Regions from separate parts of the Homo sapiens genome. Here all the other regions are linked to region 2. Evidence: fine-mapped expression QTL. A gene starts in region 2. Each other region holds a variant in brackets. All regions are shown on one strand. Distances are from middle to middle.

Region 1 (8,185 bases), 21 kb after region 2:
AATACATACATATATAGAGATAACCTATATTTACTTACATATAAAACACATTGGGCCAGGCGTGGTGGCTCACACCTGTAATCCCAGCACTTTGGGAGGCCAAGGCAGTGGATCACTTGAGGTCAGCAGTTCGAGAACCAGCCTGGCCAACATGGTAAAACCTTGTCTCTCCTGAAAATACAAAAATTAGCTGGCAGTGGTGGCGCATGCCAGTAATTCCAGCTACTTGGAAGGCTGCAGCGGGAGAATTGCTTGAACCCTGGAGGCAGAGGTTGCAGTGAGTAGAGATCGTGCCACTGCACTCCAGCCTGAGCAACAGAGCAAGGCTCTGTCTCAAAAAAGCAGCACATTGACATTTCACCTAAAAGCTGTTATGGCTTATAAGGTTGCTAGTCCTGAAATGATTAGTAAAGGCAGTAACTTCCAAGGGCTCACTGTAGTAGTGGTGTGCTTCAGAGAATTTTCCTATACTAATTTTGGAGTAAGACAGAAGTTTTAGAATTTTAAAATACATCCTTTATTTTAAATAGCCCTCCATATTGGCAAGTTCAGCATCCACTAACACAATTAACTTCAGATAGAATCGAAAATACAGTATTCCTGGGATGCAGAACCTGCATCCACTGGTCTTGAGCATTCATGGATTTTGGTATCTTCGGGTGCCCTGGAACCAATGCCCTGTGTATATTGTATATCCAGGGATGAGAGTACATTTAACTTGTGAAAAATTCTAACACAACACTACAGAAAACATAGAATAATGGCCGGGAGTCGTGGCTTCAGGGCTGTAATCCCAGAACTTTGGGAGGCCAAGCTGGGTGGATCGCTTGAGCCCAAGAGTTCAAGACCAGCCTGAGCAACATGGCAAAATCCCATCTCTACAAAAGGAAAAGAAAGAAAAGAAATAAAAAGAATACTGTCTCTTACAAACCACTCTTCCCACCTGCCCACACTAAGCGTGGCTATGGTGACTCCCAATACTTGCTTAATACTTTCAAATGGGTACTGTTGAGCAGAACAAGAAAGTTAGAAAGTGCATGGGAATGGGAGTGAGGTTGCATAGGGTGCTCAGAGATTGGAAAAATTGAGCCTGAAAAAGTTTTAAGAATCTTGCCCAGCCACGCACGGTGGCTCACACTTGTAATCCCAGCACTTTGGGAGGCCAAGGCAGGCAGATTACCTTAGGTCAAGTGTTCGAGACCAGCCTGGACAACATGGTGAAACCCTGTCTCTACTAAAAATGCAAAAATTAGCCGGGCATGGTGGCGCGCCTGTAGTCCCAGCTACTTGGGAAGCTAAGGCAGGAGAATGGCTCAAACCAGGGGGCAGAGGTTGCAGTGAGCTGAGATGGCGCCATTGCACTCCAGCCTGGGTGAAAAGAGGAAAACTCCATCTTAAAAAAAAAAAAAAGAATCTTGCCCAATGTCACATAGTTAGTAAACTGCAGAGCATCATTGCAAAAAATGGTAAAATCAGAAGAAAAAATGTACTTTTAAGAAAACATATACAAAAAAGGACTCTAGCACAGTGCAAAGTGCAGGGAAAAGAAAGAGATCAGACTGTCACTGTGTGTCTATGCAGAAAGGGAAGACGTAAGAGACTCTATTTTGAAAAAGACCTGTACTTTAAACAATTGCTTTGCTGAGATGTTGTTAATTTGTAGCTTTGCCCCAGCCACTTTGACTCAACCTGGAGCTCACAAAAACATGTGTTGTATAAAATCAAGGTTTAAGGGATCTAGGGCTGTGCAGGACGTGCCTTGTTAACAAAATGTTTACAAGCAGTATGCTTGGTAAAAGTCATCGCCATTCTCTAGTCTCAATAAACCAGGGGCACAATGCACTGCGGAAAGCCACAGGGACCTCTGCCCTTGAAAGCGGGGTATTGTCCAAGGTTTCTCCCCATGTGATAGTCTGAAATATGGCCTCGTGGGATGAGAAAGACCTGACTGTCCCCAGCCTGACACCCGTAAAGGGTCTGTGCTGAGGTGAATTAGTAAAAGAGGAAAGCCTCTTGCAGTTGAGATGGAGGAAGGCCACGGTCTGCTGCCTGCCCCTGGGAACTGAATGTCTTGGTATAAAACCTGATTGTACCTTTGTTCAATTCTGAAATAGGAGAAAAACCGCCCTATGGTGGGAGGCGAGACATGTTTGCAGTAATGCTGACTTGTTATTCTTTACTCCGCTGAGATGTTTGGGTGGAGAGAAACATAAATCTGGCTTACGTGCACGTCCAGTCATAGTACTTTCCCTTGAACTTAATTATGACATAGATTCTATTGCTCACATGTTTGTTGCTGACCTTCTCCTTATTATAACCCTGCTCTCCTACTACATTCCTTTTTGCTGAAATAATGAAAATAATAATCAATAAAAACTGAGGGAACTCAGAGGCCGGTGCCGGTGCAGGTCCTTGGTATGCTGAGCGCCGGTCCCCTGGGCCCACTGTTGTTTCTCTATACTTTGTCTCTGTCTTATTTCTTTTCTCAGTCTCTCGTCCCACCCGACTAGAAATACCCACAGGTGTGGAGGGGCAGGCCACCCCTTCATAAAGGACACAAGAGGACTCACTCCAGGTATCATTGTGCCCTCCTTTCCCCAAGCATACACCCAAAGCAGTCTTCTCTACTATTTAAAATCAGGACATTAAGTGAACAGAACAGCTCTGTAGGCACAGTCACCACCCTAGTTTAAACCACTTATGTCTCTCTCCTAGATACACAATGGTGCCTCCAATTTCTGAAGTCTGTAGCTAAACTGACCTTTTCAAATACAAACAGAATCCTTTCATATTTCAACTGAAAACATTCCACTGGTCCTTTATTACTTTATGGAAGCAATTCTCAAATCTTACCTTGCATTATAATCACCTGGAGGTCTTGGTAAAAGATTGCCTGGGCCACATCCCCAGTTTCTGACTCAGTAGGGCTGGTTTTTTCCTAAGTTCCCAGATGATGCTGCTGGCCTGCGGACTGTACTTTGTGAACCTATGCTTTAAGGAAAACAAAGCAAAAAGATCCATTAAGATCTAGTCCAAGTTTTTTGCCTAGCTCCCATCATGTCACATATCACAGTTATGTGATTTTACAGCTACTCTGCAATTCTTTACCTAACTGTAAAAACCCCTCACCAGGCAGCAAGCTTCTTGGTGGCAATACGTCTCTAGCTTGTTTGAGGAATAAATAAAACCTGTGGTAGATTCCAAGCTCTCAGTTTCAACCATCATCATACTGGCTGATTCTTAACATGCCTGCACCTAAAGCGCCTCATCTACAAAGTTGAAATGATAATTCGTACCTGTAAGACCCTTGTGAGGATTACAGGATGCTTACATAGGTCGAGGGTGCAGACGACGTAGGCTGGTGGGTTCTCAACTGGCAGCTACCACTTCGCTCCCTTAACTCCCCAACCCCCACTCCCAAACACGTACATTAACTCTTTGAAGATAACATAGCCACTTCATAAACCCTAATTCAGATCATAACATTTAAAGCTTAATTGATACAGGCTCAACACCCCCATTCTAACTCTACAATCCTGAATTTTTCACAAGAGCTACGCCAGACACTAAGGAGATCCAGTCGTGGGCAGGCAGCGACCCGGAGGTTTAGGCACAGAGAATGTTCAAGAAGCCCCTGTCCAGTTAAGCCTCCTGGCGAGGCCCTTCTGGGCCTTTCCTGCGGCCTTCCCAGCTCA[C/T]CTGGAGCAGACGGATCAGCAAATCCGGCCAAAGAATACTCAGGACCCACCGAGCCCCCGCGAGGAAGGACTCATACCCCAACCCCACCAAGTGGGCTGCTTCCTGCCTGGGGCTCAGCCTGCGCGGTGGTTGGCAGTTGCCCCGGAAGTGGGCGGGAAGGACCTGCGCATGCTCTGTGACCCTGGGTGCAGGGATTGTGTGAAGATTGAGAGCTGGGGGCGCCCTCTTCCGTGATCAGGGCCCCGTTGGCCCCAACTGGCATTTAATTCCCCTGGCTGTCTTTTCGGATTCTTATCACTTTTTATGTATATGAGTAAACTTGAGGGTCCAAGTAAGTCTGCAAGTTGGTTTTAAAAGCTTCACCAGCACAGCGTCCCCTCCCAGATGGTGAGGGAGTGGAGAGCTTTGCAGGGTCAACTGCTTCCCGTAGCCTGGGGTCGCAGGGTGGAGTCGTTGAGCACTCCCTATGCTTGAAAGAGGAATAGAAGCCCCTTTGGATTAGTTTGCATCTCAGTGGGTGAGTGGGTGGATCTCTCCCACCCTGTGGGATTGTGCCCTACCCTATGAACTCAGGTTTACCTGAGGAAGTGACATTTCAGGCGGAATTTGAGGGATGAAGAGGCATTCGTTGGATCAATTCCACGGTCAAAGTCTTCAAGGCTGGAAGAAGAGCCAATGTGGAGCCTCTCAACTTTAAAGAATTTAGTACAGGCCGGGCATAGTGGCTCACACCTGTAATCCAAGCACTTTCAGAGGCAGAGGTGGGAGGATCGCTTGAGGCCAGGAGTTCAGGACAAGCCTAGGTAACATTGCCAGACCCTGCGTCTACAAAATATTTTAGAAATGATTTTTTTTTCTTTTAATAAGAGACGGAATCTCTCTTTCGCCCAGGCTGGAGTGCAGTGGCGCGATCTTGGCTCTCTGCAACCTCTGCCTCCCAGTTTCAAGCAATTCTCCTGCCTCTGTCTCCCGAGTAGCTGGGTCTATAGGCGCACGCCGCCACGCCTGGCTAATTTTTTGTTGTTGTATTTTTAGTAGAGACGGGGTTTCATCGTGTTGCCCAGGCTGGATTCGAACTCCTGAGATCAGGCAATCCGCCCGCCTCGGCCTCCCAAAAGTGCCAGGATTACAGGCGTGAGCCACCTCACCCAGCCAGAAATGATAATTTTATTTTTATTTTTATTTTTTTTTTGAGACGGAGTCTCGCTCTGTGGCCCAGGCTGGAGTGCAGTTGCGTGATCTCGGCTCACTGCAAGCTCCGCCTCCCGGGTTCACGCCATTCTCCTGCCTCAGCCTCCAGAGTAGCTGGGACTACAGGTGCCTGCCACCACGCCCAGCTAATTTTTTGTATTTTTAGTGGAGACGGGGTTTCACCGTGTTAGCCAGGATGGTGTCGATTTCCTGACCTCGTGATCCGCCCGCCTCGGCCTCCCAAAGTGCTAGGAGTACAGGCGTGAGCCACCGCGCCCTGCCTAGAGATGATAATTTTTAAAAACTTGGTACAAAAGGAACTGAAAGAGGTCATTTGGTTGGCACTACAACGTGGGAAATTGCAAGAAGTATAAAATATGGAAAATGGCTTTGTGAGGCTGATGAGATAGGCGAGAATGAATGCTGCAAGGCCCTTTAGGCAAAATTGAGGATATTGGTTTTTATCAAATGCAAAGAAAAGCCAGTGAAGCATTTTAAACATGAAGTACTAAGATTTGAATTGTGGAATAAAGACCCGTCGATGCCTTTAATATATCCTAGAAAGGGTGTATGGTGGACAGTTGAATAGAGGTGTGACCTAGACAAATCAACCGATAAAGCAAAGTCCTTGTTCGTAAACCTTTTGAAATTCCAGAGTCTCCTGAAAAAGAAAGGAAAAGAAATACCAGTGGCAGCAGCTTCCCCCATATTACTTTGCAGTGAGGTGAGTGCATGGTATTTATTTGTTATTTTCGCCCAGGCTGGAGTACAATGGCGCCATTTTGGCTCACTGCAAGCTCCGCCTCGCGGGTTCAGCCTCCCTGGTTCAAACAGTTCTCCTGCCTCAGCCTACAGAGTAGCTGGGATTACAGGCGCGTGCCACCCACGCCCGGCTAAGTTTTTGTGCTTTCAGTACAGACGGGGGTTTCACTGTGTTGGCCCGGCTGATCTCAAACTCCTGGGCTTAAGCGATCCACCCGCCTCGGGCTCCCAAAATGCTGGGATTACTTAAAGGTGTGAGCCACTGCACCCACCCTGTATATTATGCTATTTAAACAAACTATGCAGCCAGCAGGGTGGTTTCTTTCCCTGTCACAGTACGTGGCATTAAAAATCACGCTTGTAATCCCAGCACTTTGGGAGGCCGAGGTGGGCGGATAACAAGGTCAGGAGTTCGAGACCAGCCTGACCAACATGGTGAAACCCCATCTCTACTAAAAATACAAAAATTAGCCGGCGTGGTGGCGCCTGCCTGTAATCCCAGCTACTCAGGGGAGGAACTGCTTGAACCCGTGAGGCAGAAGTTGTAGTGGGCCGAGATCGCGCCACTGCACTCCCGTCTGGGCGACAGAGGGAGACTTTGTCACCAAAAAAAAAATTATTTAAGATACCCAAAGGACTATAAATCATTCTACTATAAAGACACATGCACACGTATGTTTATTGCAGCACTATTTACAATAACAAAGATTTGGAACCAATCCAAATGCCCATCAGTGATAGAATGGATAAAGAAAATGTGAACATAGCCGGGCGTGGTGGCTGACGCCTGTAATCCCAGCACTTTGGGAGGCTGAGGCAGGTGGATCACCTGAGGTCAGGAGTTCGAGACCAGCCTGGCCAACATGGTGAAACCCTGTCTCTACTAAAAATACAAAAATTAGCCGGGCATGGTGGCAAGCACCTGTAATCCCAGCTACACGGGAGGCTGTGGCAGGAGAGTCGCTTGAACCCGGGAGCTGGAGGTTGTAGTGAGCCGAGATGGCGCCATTGCACTCAAGCCTGGAGGACAAGAGCGAGACTTCAACTCAAAAAGAAAAAAAAAAATGAAAATGTGGAACACATACACCATGGAATATTCTGCAGCCATAAAAAAATGAGGGAAATAGTTGAGGGACATAGTACTTTGCAGGGACATAGTTGAAGCTGAAAGCCATCATTCTCAGCAAATTAACACAGAAACAGAAAATCAAACACCTCATGTTCTTACTCAAAAGTGGCAGTTGAACAATGAGAACACATGGACACAGGGAGCAACAAAACATGAGGGCCTGTTGGGGGGTGGGAGGGCAAGGGGACGAGAGTATTAGGACAAATACCTAATGCATGCGGGGCTTAAAACCTAGATAACAGGTTGATAGGTGCAGCAGACCACCATGGCACATGTATACCTATGTAACAAACCTGCACATTCTGCACATGTATCCCGGAACTTAAAGTAAAATTTTAAAAAAGAAAAATAACTTAAGAGACCAGGCATGGTGGCTCAACGACTATAGTCCCAAAACTTTGAGAGGCCGAGGCAGGTGATTACTTGAGGTCTGAAGTTCGAGACCAGCCTGGCCAACATGGTGAAACTCTGTCTCTACTAAAAATACAAAAATTAGCTAGGCCTGGTGATGGGCGCCTGTAATACCAGCTATTCAGGAGGCTGAAGCAAGAGAATTGCTTAAACCTGGGAGGCAGAGGTTGCAGTGAACCAAGATGGCGCCACTGCACTCCAGCCTGGGCGACAGAGCGAGACTCTGTCCCAAAAATAAATGAGTAAGTGAATAAATAAATAAATAAACAAATAAATACTTAATATGGGAACCCCATCAATATGGCACTGAATCCTGCAAGGCTGACTATACCTCATAGGATACAGCATAATTTAACTGGATGGGGCCCACCTGCTAGATGCTAATTAACCTAAAGAGATGTGATGTAATTACTCTTCTAGACCAGTTGCCCTAAGAATTTTGTTCTTCCCTACAACAAGAGTTCAGGGCTGGGTGCGGTGGCTCATGCCTGTAATCCCAGCACTTTGGGTGGCCGAGGTGGGTGGATCATCTGAGGTCAGGAGTTTGAGACCAGCCCGGCCAACATGGTGAAACCCCATGTCTACTAAAAATATAAAAACTGGCCAGACATGGTGGTGGGCTCCTGTAATCCCAGCTACTCAGGAGGGTGAGGCAGGAGAATTGCTTGAACCCAGGAGACAGAGGTTGCAGTGAGCTGACACTGTGCCACTGCACTCCAGCCTTGGCGACAGAGTGAAACTCCGTCGTCTCAAAAAAAAAAAAAAAAAAAGAAGAGTTCAGAAGCAATCGGGCTTTCATCTTTACTCCTCCACTGAGACTGTTCCAAGTTTATCAGTGATCTAGTTTTTCAGCTAAAGAATATTTTTCATGCCTGTTACATTCTAAGATGCTTTGTAGCTTTGCTCTATGTCTATTCCATCTGGATTTAGCAGACTACTCTCCCTCTTCCTGTCCATAAAAATATGTAAAGGCCTGTAAGGACGCATAACAGACTT
Region 2 (8,185 bases):
ATTGTAACTTCCCTTACTAGATTAAGCTGTCAGCTTCATTAAGCACCATAAAGGCTTACTCAAACAAGTTCAAATTCAATGAAATGAAACATGGTGCATCTAATCAACAGTTAAACATCAGGGTGTGGGGGAATCCTACAAAATAGTTCAAATCCATTTTTACAGTTTTTCACCCTTGATAACTTTTAATCGTCACTCCTCCATTTTTTTCTTTGGCCGCACATTTGGGCAACCTGCCAAGAAAGCCCAGGTGCTCCCTCCTTCAGGGCAGGAAAGAGATTCAAACCAGGCAACTTTCATTGTGAATGAGTGATCCCTCACCCTGCCCACACCTTAACCTGAAGAAAAACACCAAGCCCGTCTTCTTTCTCTGCTCTCACAGTCCATTTACAGACCACCTACAGGCCTGTGCTGCTCTCCTTCAACACCCCAGCATGTGAGAAACAAACCTGTTCCTATCCTTCTAGTGTGTGTGTGGGTGTGTGGCATAATCAGTCTTTATATCTGGACTAAATTTGATGGGTGTTCAATTTTTCCCATGTGGGGTTGACACAACAATAATTAGGATGCTGTATGATCTCAGTTTAATTATTGGGATATTATGGAAAAGTCCCAACATGCAGAAAGAGAGACATAATTGTACAATAGATCACCCCAACCCCCATAGATCCATTACACAATTTCAATAATTATTATGGTCAATTTTATTTTATCAAGATCATGCTCTACCTTCCCCAAATCATTTTAATGCAGTATTCATACATCATATCATTTTATCTATATCTTAAAATAAATCACTAAAAGAACGATTTTAAAAGTGTAAGTGCAGTATAGGTATCACATTTAATATTTAAATATAGTTTCATTCCCTCTCTGGGTGGTCCACCCTCCCCGCACCTCAAGGTGTTCACAAATCTCAAAGCTCCTCATATTACTTTCTTCAAGAATTTGTATAAAGTTTATTTTCCAGGTCCCCCCACCATCCTACTGAAAGTTCTAATCACTTGGTCTTCTGTGAGTAGCCCTATCCTGAGGCTACCCTGGGGCCCCAACCCAACCCACCTCATTAGCATAAATCCAGTTGATCCAAAGGGGCTCATTATGAATAACAAAAGACTGGCTGGGAGCCATGGCTGTAATGCCAGCACTTTGGGAGGTCAAGAAAGGAGGATAAGGCCAGGAGTTCCAAACTAGCCTGGCCTACATAGTGAGACACCGTTTCTTCAAAAAGAATAATTTTTAAAAATTAGCTGGGCATGGTGATGTGTGCCTGCAGTCCTAGCTATTTGGAAGGTTGAGGCTGGAGGATTGCTTGAGCCCAGGAGTTCCAGGTTACAGTGAACCATGACTGCATCACTGCACAACAGGGTGACAGAGCAACATCCTGTGTCCAAAAAAAAGTGAAACAAAAAAACCCAGCACTTGCCCTTATGCTCCACTCAGTGCATGATGTGTTACTTCCGCAGCTCCCACCCCATCACAACCATTCTGCAGGTCCCTACCCCTGTCCCCTTCACCAACCCAGGACCCTGCAGGAGCAATCAGAGAACAAGAGAGAACTGCCCTCTGGGACCTGTCACTTCCCCCATGCTGACTGCATAAGGAAAAAAAAACTCCCTACAGGGTTTAAGACTGAATTCGTTCTGAGGTCACCATTTTGGTGAACAAGAAGTAGGGACTGTGTTGCGTCTTCTGACCTGGATCGACGAAGAAACAGCTCTGCAAGGATGGAAAAAGCTGACAATCCCCAGTGAACTGCTGACAAGTGAATACAGGTAGGCTCCGCACCCTACACTAACCCTCTACTGGGAGCAGAATATCTGAGTGAGGATTGCACCAGGAGGCACAGGTGAGCTACACTCAGTAAAGGGCGTGCAGCCTTTGGCTGGACCTAAGCTGGGGAAAGTAGCCACATAGGAAGGAACCTTGGGGAGTTTGTGCATTTTATTTTTTAACCATCAGTTTTGTATTATTAGAAAGATAAACATTCCAATATACATCTAAAATTATATATATTGATTATAATTCAATATGTTCTTGTATTAATTAGCATATTTATATGTACATATTATACAGAAATACATATAATTACATACCTTACAAATGTAATTAAAATTTTATTATGGTATAGGAACATATACATACCCTACACATGGTTGGCAGCATGGCTATAATCCCAGCACTTTGGGAGGTCAAGGCAGGAAGATCGCTTGAGGTCAGGAGTTCCAGACCAGCCTGGGCAACCATCTCTACAAAAAATAAAATATAAATATGCTGTTTTATATTTACTTAAAATTTTATTGGCCCAGCACAGTGGCTCATGCCTGTAATCCCAGCACTTTGGGAGGCCAAGGCAGGCAGATCACAAGGTCAAGAGATCGAGACCATCTGGCCAACATGATGAAACCCTGTCTCTACTAGAAATACAGAAGTTAGCTGGGCATGGTGGAGGGCACCTGTAGTCCCAGCTACTCAGGAGCCAGAGGCAGAAGAATCGCTTGATCCCGGGAGGCGGAGGTTGAAGTGAGCCGAGATCGTGCAACTGCACTCCAGCCTGGTGACAGAAGGAGACTCCATCTCAAAAAAAAAAAAAAAAAAAATTATTATGGTATTATAGTAGTATACACATGTCCTACACATAACCTATTTGGTTCACTCTTTACTCTGACATCGTATATGAGACAGTTCTTTTGTATGTTGTATGACAATCACAGATTTGGACTTCTCATAAGGGGCCTCATGCTGGTTTGCCCTAATTACATCTAATTATGTCTGAACTGTTCTGCATAATCAGCATATCTACCATTAAACAGTCAACAGAAGAATCAGAAACACAAACCATTCTTGGAATATATTGAGTTCTGTGCCACACCAAATCCTATGTTTTAAAAAATTTTTTCCAGGCTGAGCTCAATGGCTCAAGACTGCAACCCGAGTAGTGTGGGAGGCCCAGGCAGGAAGATTGCTTGAGGTCAAGAGTTTGAGGCTACAGTGAGCTACGAACTTGCCACTGCAGTCCAGCCTGGGTGACTAAGAGAGATTCAGTCTCAAAAAAAAAAAAAAAAAAAAAACAAGTTTTCCAGAAGATATGTCTTTATTGGTGTTTATATTTACAGAAAACTTAAAGGGAAATTGAGGTTGATTTTCCTTGTCTTCATGTGACCACAAAAGGATGAAGAGAGGATATCAGGGACCAGCCCCAGATGACTCAGGTAATCTGAGACCAGGCCTGGGATCCACACACAAGACACACACACCCAGATGGAAGCACAATGCCTAGTCTCGCTCTTTCCTCAATCCCGATTTAAACTAATTTGGCAGTTTTATGAGATTAAAGAGGGTGTAGACAGGAAATTGGTAGAGGATGGAAAATCGATTAAGATTAGGGACAACTGTGAGGAGGAAGACAAAGGAGACAGAATCTGAGAGCCCTGAGGCGGACTGAAAACGGGGAGGCGGCTCAAAGAAAAGAGTAAGAGAAATGAGCTTTTCTGGAACGAGGCATTGATAACGCTGAAACATGATTAGCCTTTTGAAATAAATCTTTCGTTTATTTATTTTTTTGAGACAAGCTCTCGTTCTGTCGTCCAGACTGAGGTGCAGTGGCGCCATCCTGGCTCACTGCAACCTCAACTCCCCAGGTTCAAGCGATTCTCCCACCTCAGCCTCCGGAGTAGCTGGGACCACAGGGGCGGGCCAACATGTCCGGCTAATTTTTGTATTTTTTGTACAGACAGGGTTTCACCATGTTGGCCTGGCTGGTCTCAAACTCCAGAGCTCATGTGATCCGCCCACCTCAGCCTACCAAAGTGCTGGGATTACAGGCATGAGCTTCCATGCCGGGTATAAAAGGAAGCTTTTAAATTGTGGAGTATTTCATACATCCATAATAGTAGAGAGAACATTATGAAGAACGTACACATAAAAAGAAACCAATTTCTATCATTTGAATTAACAATCTTTATAACCCCAGCAACTTCTCCTGCCAATGGAGTAAATTCCCAGACATCTTATAATTTCATCTGTATATTTCATCTTATAATTTCATTATTTATTCCCTAAAAGACAATATCTCAATTATCATAGTGTTACTGTAACTTTTAATAAGCTGTTCAGTGGGAATTATAACCATATTTTTCTCCAACCAGTTATAAATAAGATTCAATAAATTAAAACAGCAACTGGAATTCTCTTCTGTTAAGGCGGGGCAGGGAGAGCCCTCAGTCTGGCACAGGTAGGGTTGGGTGGCAGAAGAGCAAAGCAAACAGCTGAGGTTCCTTCAGAATGCAACTTTCTCACAGAACACAAGGCTCTCAAGGGGCTTCAGCACCCCAAGCACTGCAGCGTTTCTCCCAGGAGGCTGGGCGAGTCCGTAGCGGAAGTCGGAGCGGCAGAGCAGTGATTGGGTGCGGCCGGCACCGTCTCTGGGCTTCGACTTCCGGGTGAGACCGTGAAGGTGTGGCGCGACGTTGGAGACCGGGGCAGCGCCATGTACCACAGTGGATGGAAGGATGCGCGGTGCGGCGGGGCAGCTGTCCTCTTCTCCCCGGACCCAGCGCCTGGAGAGCCAGCCCTGCAGGGTGGGCTGGGCGAGCCAAACTGCGTTCCTGGTGCAGGGCTTCGGGTCTCCCTAACAGACCTTATACGCTGACCGGCGGCCGCCATGGCAGTGTCTCTTTGCTCAGACATCCAGGGACGACCACATTCGTCCAACAGCGGTCGCTCCACCAATCCTGGGAGAAGCGAATCGTTTTCTCCGCGTGCCCTGTCAGCCGCTCATGGTGCCCAGAGAGGAATTTTAGTGGCAGCATTCCGGCTGTCACGCCACCGAAATTGCCAGGCCACTCCAAGTCAGAAGGACCACCAGGAAAAGTCAGGAAGAGAACCACCATCAGGTCCCAGCCTCTTTTTGTGACAAGGACTAGAGGGTTTGGGTCTGCAGTGGGCTGGCTCCCGCTGGGCTCACCTGTCCTATAGAGCAGGCTGCCTCAAGGAAGAAGCTCACAGGGGACATCTGACATCTGAAACAGCAAGTGTAAAATGCTTTAAATAAGCCAAAACTAAACCAATCGTTATGTTAACTAAAAATACATGAATGCTACCGAAGATAGTCGAATATTAGAGGAAGAGATTAAACTCTGATTTTGAGCACTTTGTGCTTTATTCGGAAAATGAATAAGATGCAGTTCTGAAAACCTGAAAATATAAAGAATAGGATATGATACGCACACTAGATGAAAACAAAACTTTCAGACCATATTTTCTTATTTAAAGCTCTAATAAGTGAGATAGCAGAGTAAACTATTCACTCAAATAATTAGTAACTGATATAAGGGTATGTATCAATAACAGGTATTAAGACAAAAACTTTATGAGCTTTTCCATTTTAACAAGGGATGATGATTCTAGACTTCTGCCACAACATTATGGTCGACAAAACATTCTTAATTCATTTTACATAGATCTGACTCTAGATTCTGAAACAGCAAGTCATAATCTTGTATCTCTAAAGATAGAATACAGTGCGATTTGGAAAGACACCACAAAAACTCATGATCCAAAAAAGATTAAGGCTGTTATTACCAGGAGGAAGAGAAAGAGGACAAAATCAAACTGGATAGATATAATAGAGTTGTTTGTTAGAATTGTCTTCCCAGGAGATGGAAAAAGACGCCATCACAATAGGATTCATGCTTTAGTTTTCAGCTATAGAAATGTAATAACTTTGCCAAAGTAATTACACTACATAGAGTGGCAATCGTTCTATTAAAAGTAAGACCCAGTAATGTTAGGATTTGTTCTGGACAATGAAGGGGATGAGGTTTAATCTTATGACTTGAATGCCAGGTCTGAAATCTTTTCTTCAAGTGATATTTTTATGAAACTACTTAGGCTGTGTTTCACACTGGGTATGATTTCTAACCTCTTATAACCTGTACAGTAATAGATTATGAAGGATGAATTATTTGAAAGCTATTTTGTATTATTTAGGAGAGGAGCTCTTCAATTCTGAATTGTCTGCCACTTACAAGCAGAAGAAAGTTTTTTTCTTTCATTATTTTAGCAACTATCAATAAAACAGTATTAGAAATGCCTACTCTTCAGAGATGTAATGGGAATAAATTGTAAAGTACTTTTGATATTCTAAGATGAAAGATGGTATTACACAGTCAATAATTCAATGCTTCCCACATTATGAATTTTATCAAAATTATGTAGAGAGCTATTAGTTCATTCCAGCAACAAAACAGGCTTATATAAAAACAAAAACCTCCTGGGTCATGCCATCCTACACCAAATTCCTGTTAAACAGAGGCATGATTTATTCCAGTGACCTTGCTATTTCTTCATAACTGTAATATGTCTAATGTTAGACATTTTAAATTAACATTCTATTAGATAAACTGAGAATTTAGGTCTCTCGCACCACCCAGGCACATACTCTATCTTTCCCCACAAATATCCAAATATGGTAATATAATTGGATTAATACGTTCATATGACTATATAATTGTTCACAGCTGAGCCACTTAGGTGCTATAATTATAATTTCTTTGATACACAAATTTTGTTTTATTGTGATTAAAATTGCCTGATTTCTTACTTGCTGCATTTTCTGTTTATCTCTTTCAGCCCCATATCTGCTCATCTCTAAAGTTCCTTTCTAAACTCGACATGTAATTTGTTGATTATATTCATTTTCTTTATAGTGCTCAATCTCCTGAAGCCCTCTGTCATCTTAGCATGAACTGAAATTTGGTGATATGATGCACAGCTGTCCTCTGAGGCCTTTCATGTTTCCCTTACCCTAAGAATTATCTTTTATCTTCTGTCTTATGTCCAGAGGTTTTAAGTCTATTGTTGTCTGAGTCCCTTGTTTTCCTTCTTAGTTTTCTTCCCTTCTTTTGGTGAGCGTATCACCAGGTAGTTCCCTGAAAAAGGGGACTTGGAAGATGTGCCAGTCATTTTCCTTGTGCTGTGAGATGTGGGAATGTGTGCTAGGCCCAGCATTACATCTGGAGGAGGGTGAAGAACATTTGTGAAGGCCACACATGCCTGAGACCAAAGTTCAGAGTGCTTGCCCATGACTCATGCTCAATCAGAACATCAGAGAACACAGGCTTCCCCAACTCCCAAAACCACACTAAGAGGAGTTGAGTAAAAATAACAGTAGAATCCAGTTTGAGAAATTAAAGAGACATATCACTAGGGGAGTGTGAAGTCTTTAATGTATTAATGGTAACGATAGCAATAACAAACTTCAAACTCTGCCTAACTCCTGGCTCGATTAATACAAACACACCCTCACTACGGGCCTAGCAGAAGGGAAACAAGTTCATCTCTGCTATTGGTTGAATTGTGTTCTCCCGAAAAAGTATGTTGAAGGGCTAACTCCAGTACTTCAGATGTGACCTTATTTGGAAATTAGGTCTTTAGAAGGTAATTGGTCAAAATGAGGTCATTAGGGTGGGCCTTAATCCAGTATCACTGCAGTCCTTATAAAAAGATGAAATTTTGACACAAAGATATGCACAGAGGAAGATTATATGAGGAAACACGGGGGAATGCCATTGGAGTGATGCATCTACTAGCCAAGGAATGCCAAAGATTGGCAGCAACACAACAGAACCTGGAGGCATGGAAGAAATTCTATATCACAGCCCTCAGAACAAACCAATCCTGCCAACACTCATAATTTGGACCCAGCCTCCAGAACTGTGAGACAATAAATTTCCTGTTATGGGCTGGACACGATGGTTCATGCTTGTAATCCCATCACTTTTCGAGGCCGAGGCGGGTGGATCACGAGGTCAGGAGTTCAAGACCAGCCTTGCCAAGATGATGAAACTCCATCTCTATTAAAAATACAAAAAAAAGAAAAAAAAATAGGTAGGCATGGTGGCAGGCTCCTGTAATCCCAGCTACTTGGGAAGCTGAGGCAGGAGATTTGCTTGAACCCAAGGAGTGGAGGTTGCAGTGAGCCGAGATGGCACCACTGCACTCCAATCCGGGCGACAGAGTAAGACTCTGTCTCAAAAAAAAAAAAAGGAAAAAAAATTTCCTGTTATGTAAACTACCCAGTTTGTGATACCATATTAGGGTATTCCCTATAAAACTAATATAATCTACAAGTATAAAAATATTTACCAGCTGGGTGTGGTGGGTCATGCCCATAATCCCATCA
Region 3 (8,185 bases), 450 kb after region 2:
AGGTGATATACACTGAGGTGTTAAAAATATGTTTTGCAGGCATTAGTTGGTTTAATCAATCAATGACTAAGAAGTTCCACTTCAAATCACAACCTATTATAACCAATTAATTCACTATTCTAGGCTTTGACAGTAGGCATTAAAGGGTTTTATTGTGGTACTTACTTATATTATAAAAATTTAATTGCCTAAATGTACTATACTAAATGATCATATTAATCTTGATGTGCCTAAAAATTAATCTACTTGATAAACTGTTCTCTCACATTATATGTTCATAAACCAGAGATGTAGTTTTAAAATAATGTTTACTGAGGATGTTTAATATATCAGAGCATAAACAGCTGTCAGTTTTTCTTTTACTTTTGAGGGTGATAAAAATAATGGATTTTCAAGTAAGATGTATTAAGATGTCAAATGCATCTATTCTACTAATTATAACTGTTGATTCTAAACAATAAATACCTGTTGTACATCTGTGAAAAGACATACCCTCTTTTTTATTTTTTGAGAAAGAGTCTCTGTCACCCAGGCTGGAGTGCAGTGGCACGATCTCGGCTCACTGCAACCTCCACCTCCCAAGTTCAAGCGATTCTCCTGCCCTGGCCTCCTGCCTCCTGAGTAGCTGGGACTACAGGCACACGCTAACACACCCAGCTAATTTTTGTATTTTTAGTAGAGATGGGGTTTCACCATGTTGGCCAGGCTGGTTTTGAACTCTTGACCTCAGGTGATCCACATGCCTTGGCCTCCCAAAGTGCTGGGATTACAGGTGTGAGCCACCGTGCCTGGCCACATATCCTCTTTTAAAGGAGTTCCCTATATACTAGGGAGGATAAGACACATGCATATGTTATGATAAGATAGAAAATGACAAGTACCTTAAGAGTAATACAAAGCGAAGTTTGAGATTGAAGAATGGAGGACACATTTAATAAGGATACTCACCGAGACTTCTGATTGGCTTAATCTTGACCAGTGTAGAGGAGAGAAGAGAATTCTAGGAGAAACAGAAGCAATCATCAGTGTTATAATCCCAGCCTCTCTAAGAGTGGGTTCCAAGATAATGTTCAGAGGATAATAACAGAGCACTTTGTGCTTAGACCTTACTGTACATGTAGAGGAAGCAAAATCTTTACAAGTAGGTCTTTGGCCATATCATGAATATCCTTAAATGCTAGACTGAGGATTTAGACTTCATTTGTTTGGGAGTTAACAGAAATAGATCACTTGTGCATTGCTAATTTAAGAAAAAGATATTGTATGCTTTTGACATATTTAGGGAGGTGTTGTGGACCCACCACCTGGAGAGAGATATATGGCCAGCAGTTTGAAATGAAATTCATTTCATAGCAGAATTTGAGGACAGAGGAAAAGATTTAGGAATCACTTGCATGACTGGTGAGGGTGAAAATGGTGATTATGGATGAGATGACTGAGGGAGGGAGAATAGGCAAAGGAGAGAAAGTGTATCAGGCAGAAACTTAGAACACACCAACATTTTTAAGATTAAATGAGCAAGAAGAGAGCAGAGAGATGTAGTCAAAGAAAGAGGCAGTAGGTATGATTCAGAGCTGTAGTCTCAAGATAGGACTGGGGGCATATGACGATGCCCAGTGCTGTGGAAGTTAATGAAGCAGAGGATACAGTAAAGGTCACTCACTCCCAGCACTGGTTGGAAGTCGCTGGGGACATTTGGGGAAGTAGTTTCAGTAGAGTCAAGAGGAAGAAGTCAAACAAATGGATAAGGAGTAAGTGAAGGGCAGTTTCACCTCTAACACTCACCTTTTCTCTCACCCATTCATCAAACCAAGCCTTTCTTTTTTAAAGGCTAGTCAAGTGAAGCAGTGGGAGTAAAGAAGGAATAAACTAAGTTTTTTGAAAGATTACATACTATTTTCAACACACATTCATTCCTGAACTCATATCATTGTGGCAGTCACTGCATTACTCTCTTCATATGGTTCTCACAAAGGGCCACTACTGACTTCTTAATAGGGTGACCTTATGTCTTTGTTTCCAACATATTCAGTGTTCCTGGGGTATTTGTTAATAGAGCCCTCTTTCACCCTCAAAACTGTCCTAGTTTGGATGATAAATTATGAGTTATCCCAGCTCTTCATCACCAGTTCTAATGAGCCGTTTTCAATCTTTATCTTACTTGACCTTATTTGATTTTTTTTTTCTTTACACAGCTGACTACTCCCCTTTAGTGTGACTTGAAACCCCACTTCTTTGATTTGTACTGGATAACTCTTCTGGTTCTCCTGACACCTTCTCAGTCTTTTCTGCGGCCTTCTCTTCTGTACACCCTGTAAGTGGTGCCATTGCTTAGAGTTCTGTTCTTGGTTTCTTCTCTTCGTTACACGCCTTTTCCATAGACAGGCTCACTCATAACAACAGGTGCAGTTAACTAGAAGCCGGTGAAGGAAAAATATAACCCTTGTTTCTCCCCAGTGAGCTTTGGATTTGCACATCCACCTGCCTAGTACACTTTTACTATAAGTGATAGTCAACATGTGGATAAGAACTTGAGCATTGGAGTGAGACATAAGGCTGCCAGGTCTGCCGTTTAATAGCTTAATGGCCTTAAAGAAGAAAGTCTTTATGTGGCTCAGCTTCCACTCTGTAAAATCATGAAACCTGTCACGTAAGATTTATGTGCGGGTAAAATGAAATAGCACATGTAATGTGCTGAGCACAGTTAATGGCACACAACATACACTTAATGAATAATAGAAATTATTATTATTTCCCAAACTGTATTCTCCTCTCATTATTTCTTGTCTTGTGGAACATCTGCCTTCCTGAGTGGAGGAGGGTTTATGTGTGGGGGAACATGAAATACTTTTGGAAAGATTGAGTGATGCCACAATATATGAGGCCCTGGAAGCTGGACAGAGGAATTTAGACACAATGGTGGGTTACAGGGGCTTCTGCAGTCTTGTGAGCATAGAATGATTCTGTGGAAAGTGGTGTTGTAATAAAATTAGTTATTTTAATATTAAGCCAGATGTGTTTAAAGTAGGGGTCGGGAGGCTGGGCAAAAGGCTGATAGAGTAATACTGGCATAATTTGATGAGGACCTGGAAAGGTGTGGTGACAATGGAATGAAGAGGAAAGGATAATTAGGGAAAGGTGATAAATGGACAGATTATTTTATTTTTTATATCAGTTCTTTCTTCAGAAGGTTGTGAGATATTTCCATCAAAAATATATATTTAATAAAAATGTAATAAAGCTTCTTTATGGATCAAGAAGCCACTACTGTTTTGTACCTATTTATTTGTGAAAGAGAAGGAAAATGTGCTAATAATAATAGTGGCCAACATTTTCAGCCTGATTCTCTCAGAGTTTGCTTAGATGATCATTTACCTCTTCAGATCTTTGAAAGAATTTCATAAATGACTGGTCCCATTTGTAACCTTTATTATTCTCATAGTTACACAGAATTGTTGAGATGCATACTTCAGTATTAAAGGATGTTGGTGTTTCTAGTGATTCTGGCCGGTTACATGACACCATGTGATACAGTTTGGATATCTGTCCCTGACCAAATCTCATGCTGAAATGTAATGCCCAGTGTTGGAGACGGAGCCTGTTGGGAGGTGTTTGGATCACAGGGGCAGATTCTTCTTGAATGACTTGACACTATCTCCTGGTGAGTTCTCGCGAGATCTGATTAAGTGTATGGTACCTCCCCCACCTTACTCCCTTTCTCTCCATGTGACGTGCATGCTCCTGCTTCTACCATGAGTGAGAGCTCCCTGAGCCCTCCCCAGAAGCCGTGTAGACGCAAGCACCATGCTTGTACAGCCTGCAGAACCGTGAGCCAATTAAACTTCTTTTCTTTATAAATTACTCAGTCTCCGGTATTTCTTTATAGTAATTCAAGAATGGCCTAATGCACCATGTAAATTAAAATATACACTTGCAAATATGTCACAAAAAGACTTACTCTCCCCCGAAGAGGAGTCAATACAAAAACCTGAAGAATGTGGCAAGTGGAAAAACAGAAATGAGAAAACTACCTTTGTTTATAAAAAATATTTTTAAGATATTTTTTCTTTGGAAATAGATTGTTCTTTTGAAATCTGGAATGTAAAATGCCAGACTCTTCTTCTGTTTTTCTGGATTTGAAACAATCGAACACTGGGAAATATCTGATCCTGAACTAAAATGCAGGCACACCAAATTTGAACTCAGATTGAAAAAGTTAACACTGGGAATCAACTAGAAATTAACGGTGATTATGAAGAATATTTTGATTGCTATTTGATTCTTTCATAGCTCTGTAAAACTTATGTAAGCAAGCTATTAAAAAACAAAAGCTGAAGGCGACTGTTTTATGATGTGTGTATCATAAAGGAAACCATCACCACCTGTCATTGAAACCAGGAAAGGCTCATGTCAACTAAATGTGAAAAGAAAACAGTGTAAGAAATTAAAAAAAAAATCATATTCTTGAGGCCATGAAACACATGTTCCAGAAAACAGTTTATTAGAATTGCATTAAGTAAAAATTAATGTCTGCACACTGATGGGGAAGCAGTGTGGAGTGGTATGGAAAATGTTAGAGCAGTCTATTTTTGTAAAATCTGGAAGTTGGAATAAATAATCATTGGGGCCCCAGCTCTAAAATCCTACTACCACTATTAATGTGACAATGATTTAATTTTTGAATGAAATTTAAATTGTAACATATGCCATGGGGAATGTGTTTTCTGGCTTGCTAACAACATGAAAAGAGGATGTTGAAAGCCTCTTGTAATTCATGTTTTTAATTTCATTCTTTTTTTTTTTTTTTTTACAGAGTTTGGTTTTTATTGTTATGTGTTTGTCTGGGTGCAGAATTGCCCTCACCACCCCTGGCCACCCTGGCCTCCTGACAGGAACAGGCAAAGAGATGGCTCCAGATGGCTCTTGGCTGCCAC[T/C]CTAGGCCTCAGGGCTTATACAATGAGCACAGTGGGTTCCACCTTCCAATAGCGCAAACTCTAATTCACAGTCAGATTTCACCAGGAGGGGGAGATGATCTTGGCTGAAGGCACTTTAATCAGGGAGCAAACCCAATGCCGGAGTTTGTCTTCCTTCTCGTTACTCTGATAAATCTAGATGCCACTCTGTTGGAGAACCAGCACTGCCGGCAGCTGGGGTTAGTGCACTGACTGAGTGAGGCATGAGGCCTGCTCACTGATGAAACTTCTTGTTAGGGCTGTTAGTGTGGTCAGCTAGCAGCTGGCTTGGGGTGAACTCTTTTCCATAGGCAGCCTCATACTTCTTGAGCCGGTCCACTATCTTCTGGGCTTCATACAGATCCACAAAGCAGAAAGGCCCTCCAAGACAAGGTGGGAAGCTGAGCCCGAAGACGGCTCCAATGTCTCCCTCTGCAGGTGTGGCCAAGATCCCCTCTTGCGGGCACGTGACTGCCTCATTCACAAATCTTGTCAGCAGGCGGAACTGGATGTCTTCATCTGAGGAGACTTCAGACTTAGGAGGCATCTTCAGACTTGCTAAAATACCGTTCATGTCAGAATTCAAATTCTTATTCTTCACACTCTCCTGATAGATGGAAAAGCCCTTCCCAGACTGGCGACCTAGGAAGCCCTTGGACACCATCTATGTCAGTAGTTCTGGGTTTCCACCTCCAAACTGCTCCCCAAAGGCTTTGCCCAGATCTTTGGCCACATGTTTCGCTACATCCACGCCAACTTCATCCACCAGTGTGGCGGCACCCACAGGAAGGCCAAGGCTTGTGGTCAGGGAATCCAGCTTCTTTGGGTCAACTCCTTCCTGGAGGATTCAGATGACTTCAGACATCATGGGTGCAAGACACCTGGTAGTATAGAAGCCAGGTCCATCCTTAACCACAATGATGACCTTCCCCTGCTTGAGACCGATTGCTACAGTTGAAGCACTGGTGTCTTTGGAAGTCTTCTTGGTTGTGATCATCTCCAGCAGCTGCATCTTGTCTGCGGGAGAGAAGTAGTGCCTGCCAATCACCTTCTCAGGTCTTTTGCTGACAGCAGCGATTTCACTGACTGGGAGAGGAGATGTGTTACTAGCAAAGACGTAGTGATCTGGAATCACTGCTTCTACTTCCTTTAGCACTCTGTGCTTAAAACTAAGGAAGTTGTGATGGATGGACAGCATCCATCACCATGTCTGTCTTTCAAAACCTTGGTAATCAAGCTTCCCAGTCAAGTTGCTGAAGATGGAATCCCTTTCAAATGACGTTAGAGCTTTCTTCTTTACTTTGTCATTCAATCCTTTGAACACTTGTTGCTGTCCTCAGCCTAACCCAGTGAGTGTGGCATCTTTAAGTATAGTCTTTCGCCCCTTATCCACGGAGACTTGGGCAATGCCTGCTCCCATCATCCCTGCACCAGGAATAGCCAGATGCTTAACATCCTTCTGTGGAGCTCCAGATGTATTCTTCTTGCACAGGACCTGACCATGGTAGAGTCCCATCAAGGCCTTTGATTCTTTGGTCATTGCAAGCTCTCCGAATTTCTGAGATTCAGAGAGATAACCAGCATCGCTCCCTTGCTCAATTCCAGTCTTTACCACATCAATTATTTTCAGAGGTGTGGGATAAAGGGAAAGCCCTTTAGTCCGCTTTCACACTTTTTCTTCCACTTTTTTGTAAATCTGTTGCCTGACAAATGGAATAGTCATGGCATACGCTGTTAATTTTTCCACTAATCCCTTGTCTCTCTTTGGAGAGATCTTCTTATCAGCTAGTCCTTTGGGAAAGTAATTGCAACTTCTTCTAGGTATTTGATTGTCCATTCCTCTGGAAGTTTTAGTCCTGGTCGCAGAGATTCCACCAATTGGTCAACCAGTCCCATTTTCTTTGCCCTGTCTGCACGGATGTTTCTGCCAGTCAGCATCATGTCAAAAGCAGCAGGCACACCCACCATTTTGGGCAGCCTTTGTGTGCCTCCTGCTCCTGGTAAGATCCCCAGCAAGACTTCAGGAGCACCGAATACTGTTTTTCTGTCTTTTGTTGCTATTTTATATTGGCATAAAATGGCAGGATCCACTGATGGCAGTCACAACAGGCTTTATGGACTTTTCAAGTTTCTCAAATGTTCTCTGTGCTTCTTGTGGTATCTGTGTTACTTCTTGAGGGGTCTTGCAAGTGGCTAAAATGTTGATATCAGCACCTACAATAAAGCAGCCTGGCTTTGGTGAGATAAGGATGGCACTTCTGATTTGATCACTAGCCCAGATTTCATTCATAACTTCCGTGAACTCTGAATGCAGCTGTTTGTTTATTCAGCGTATTTATCTTTGAATGGGGAGAGTTAATTTAAATAACTATCACATCCCCTTTGACTCCATAGTTAATATGGGTTCTGGTCAGCAAAGCAAAGGACCCTGTAAAATTGCGGCGTATATAACCTTGGGAGCGGAGGATCCTGAAGGCAGAGAAGTGGCTGAGGCTGCCAATCGCCCGGTAGACCACCATGTTGAGCTGAAGAGAACAGCAGTGGAGAGCGCTTCTCTTTAATTTCATTCTTATCTTTTGTATTAGCTTTTTAAATGTATTATAACCAAGGAGAATACAAATGAACTGACTTCACAGTTTTTCCCTCAGATTTCAGAATTGTACTGTTCTTAAGCTCCCTCCTAAAACTTGTCTCTTTTATTAAATATTTTAATATTTAATGGCTGAAAATCTTTGTGGTCATTATTACTTTGTTGCAGCTTTATTGAGATAGAATTCACATACCAAATAGTTCACACAATTAAAAGTAAAATTCAATGGTTTATAGTAGATCCACAGTGTTGTGCAGCCATCACCACAATTTTAGAACATTTATATCATCACCTCAAAAAGAACCCCATACCCATTAGCAGTTATTCCTCATTTTCCCAATTCCTCCCAATCCTGCTCCAACAACTCTAGGCCACCAGACTAATCGACTTTTTGTCTCTGTAGATTTGCTTATTCTAGACATTTCATATAAATCAAATTGTGTGATATGTGGTCTTTTGTGGCCGACTCCTTTAACTTAGCATAATGTTTTCAAGGTTCACCCATGTTGTAGCATGTATTAGTACTCCATTATGTGGATTTACCATATTTTGTTTTTCCATTCATCAGTTGATAGACATCTGGGTTGTTTCAATTTTTTGTCTATCATGAACAAGGCTGCTGCTATGGCACTTATGTGCAAGT

Direction of the effects. Positions count from the first base shown, and alleles are read on the strand shown. Sizes are in standard deviations (SD) of each study's normalised expression. Not every link is listed here.
For the expression in breast of the gene that starts at base 4,429 in region 2, C is the low allele of the variant in region 3 and T is the other (large effect, 0.93 SD a copy in GTEx).

What was found. PIP is the estimated chance that this variant, and not a neighbour inherited with it, causes the effect.
Region 1: its variant is fine-mapped to the expression of FAM218A in whole blood (INTERVAL, PIP 0.99).
Region 3: its variant is fine-mapped to the expression of FAM218A in breast (GTEx, PIP 0.96).

Annotation. Positions count from the first base shown.
Region 1 is chr4:164,973,835-164,982,019 of GRCh38, forward strand. It overlaps TRIM61 (tripartite motif containing 61), which reads right to left and starts at 3,823. Exons shown (of 3, transcript NM_001414904.1): 1 at 3,697-3,823; 2 at 2,854-2,991. RefSeq lists enhancers at 3,932-4,011, 4,042-4,101. The variant C/T (reference allele first, on the strand shown) is at 3,696.
Region 2 is chr4:164,952,520-164,960,704 of GRCh38, forward strand. FAM218A (family with sequence similarity 218 member A) reads left to right here and starts at 4,429. Exons shown (of 1, transcript NR_160935.1): 1 at 4,429-6,612. It also overlaps a transcript of TRIM61 not described here. RefSeq lists enhancers at 4,179-4,228, 4,529-4,688.
Region 3 is chr4:165,398,878-165,407,062 of GRCh38, forward strand. All of the region lies in intron 1 of CPE (carboxypeptidase E), which reads left to right. It also overlaps the pseudogene HADHAP1. Among named protein-coding and RNA genes, the nearest start is that of MIR578, 17 kb to the left of the region's middle. The variant T/C (reference allele first, on the strand shown) is at 4,935.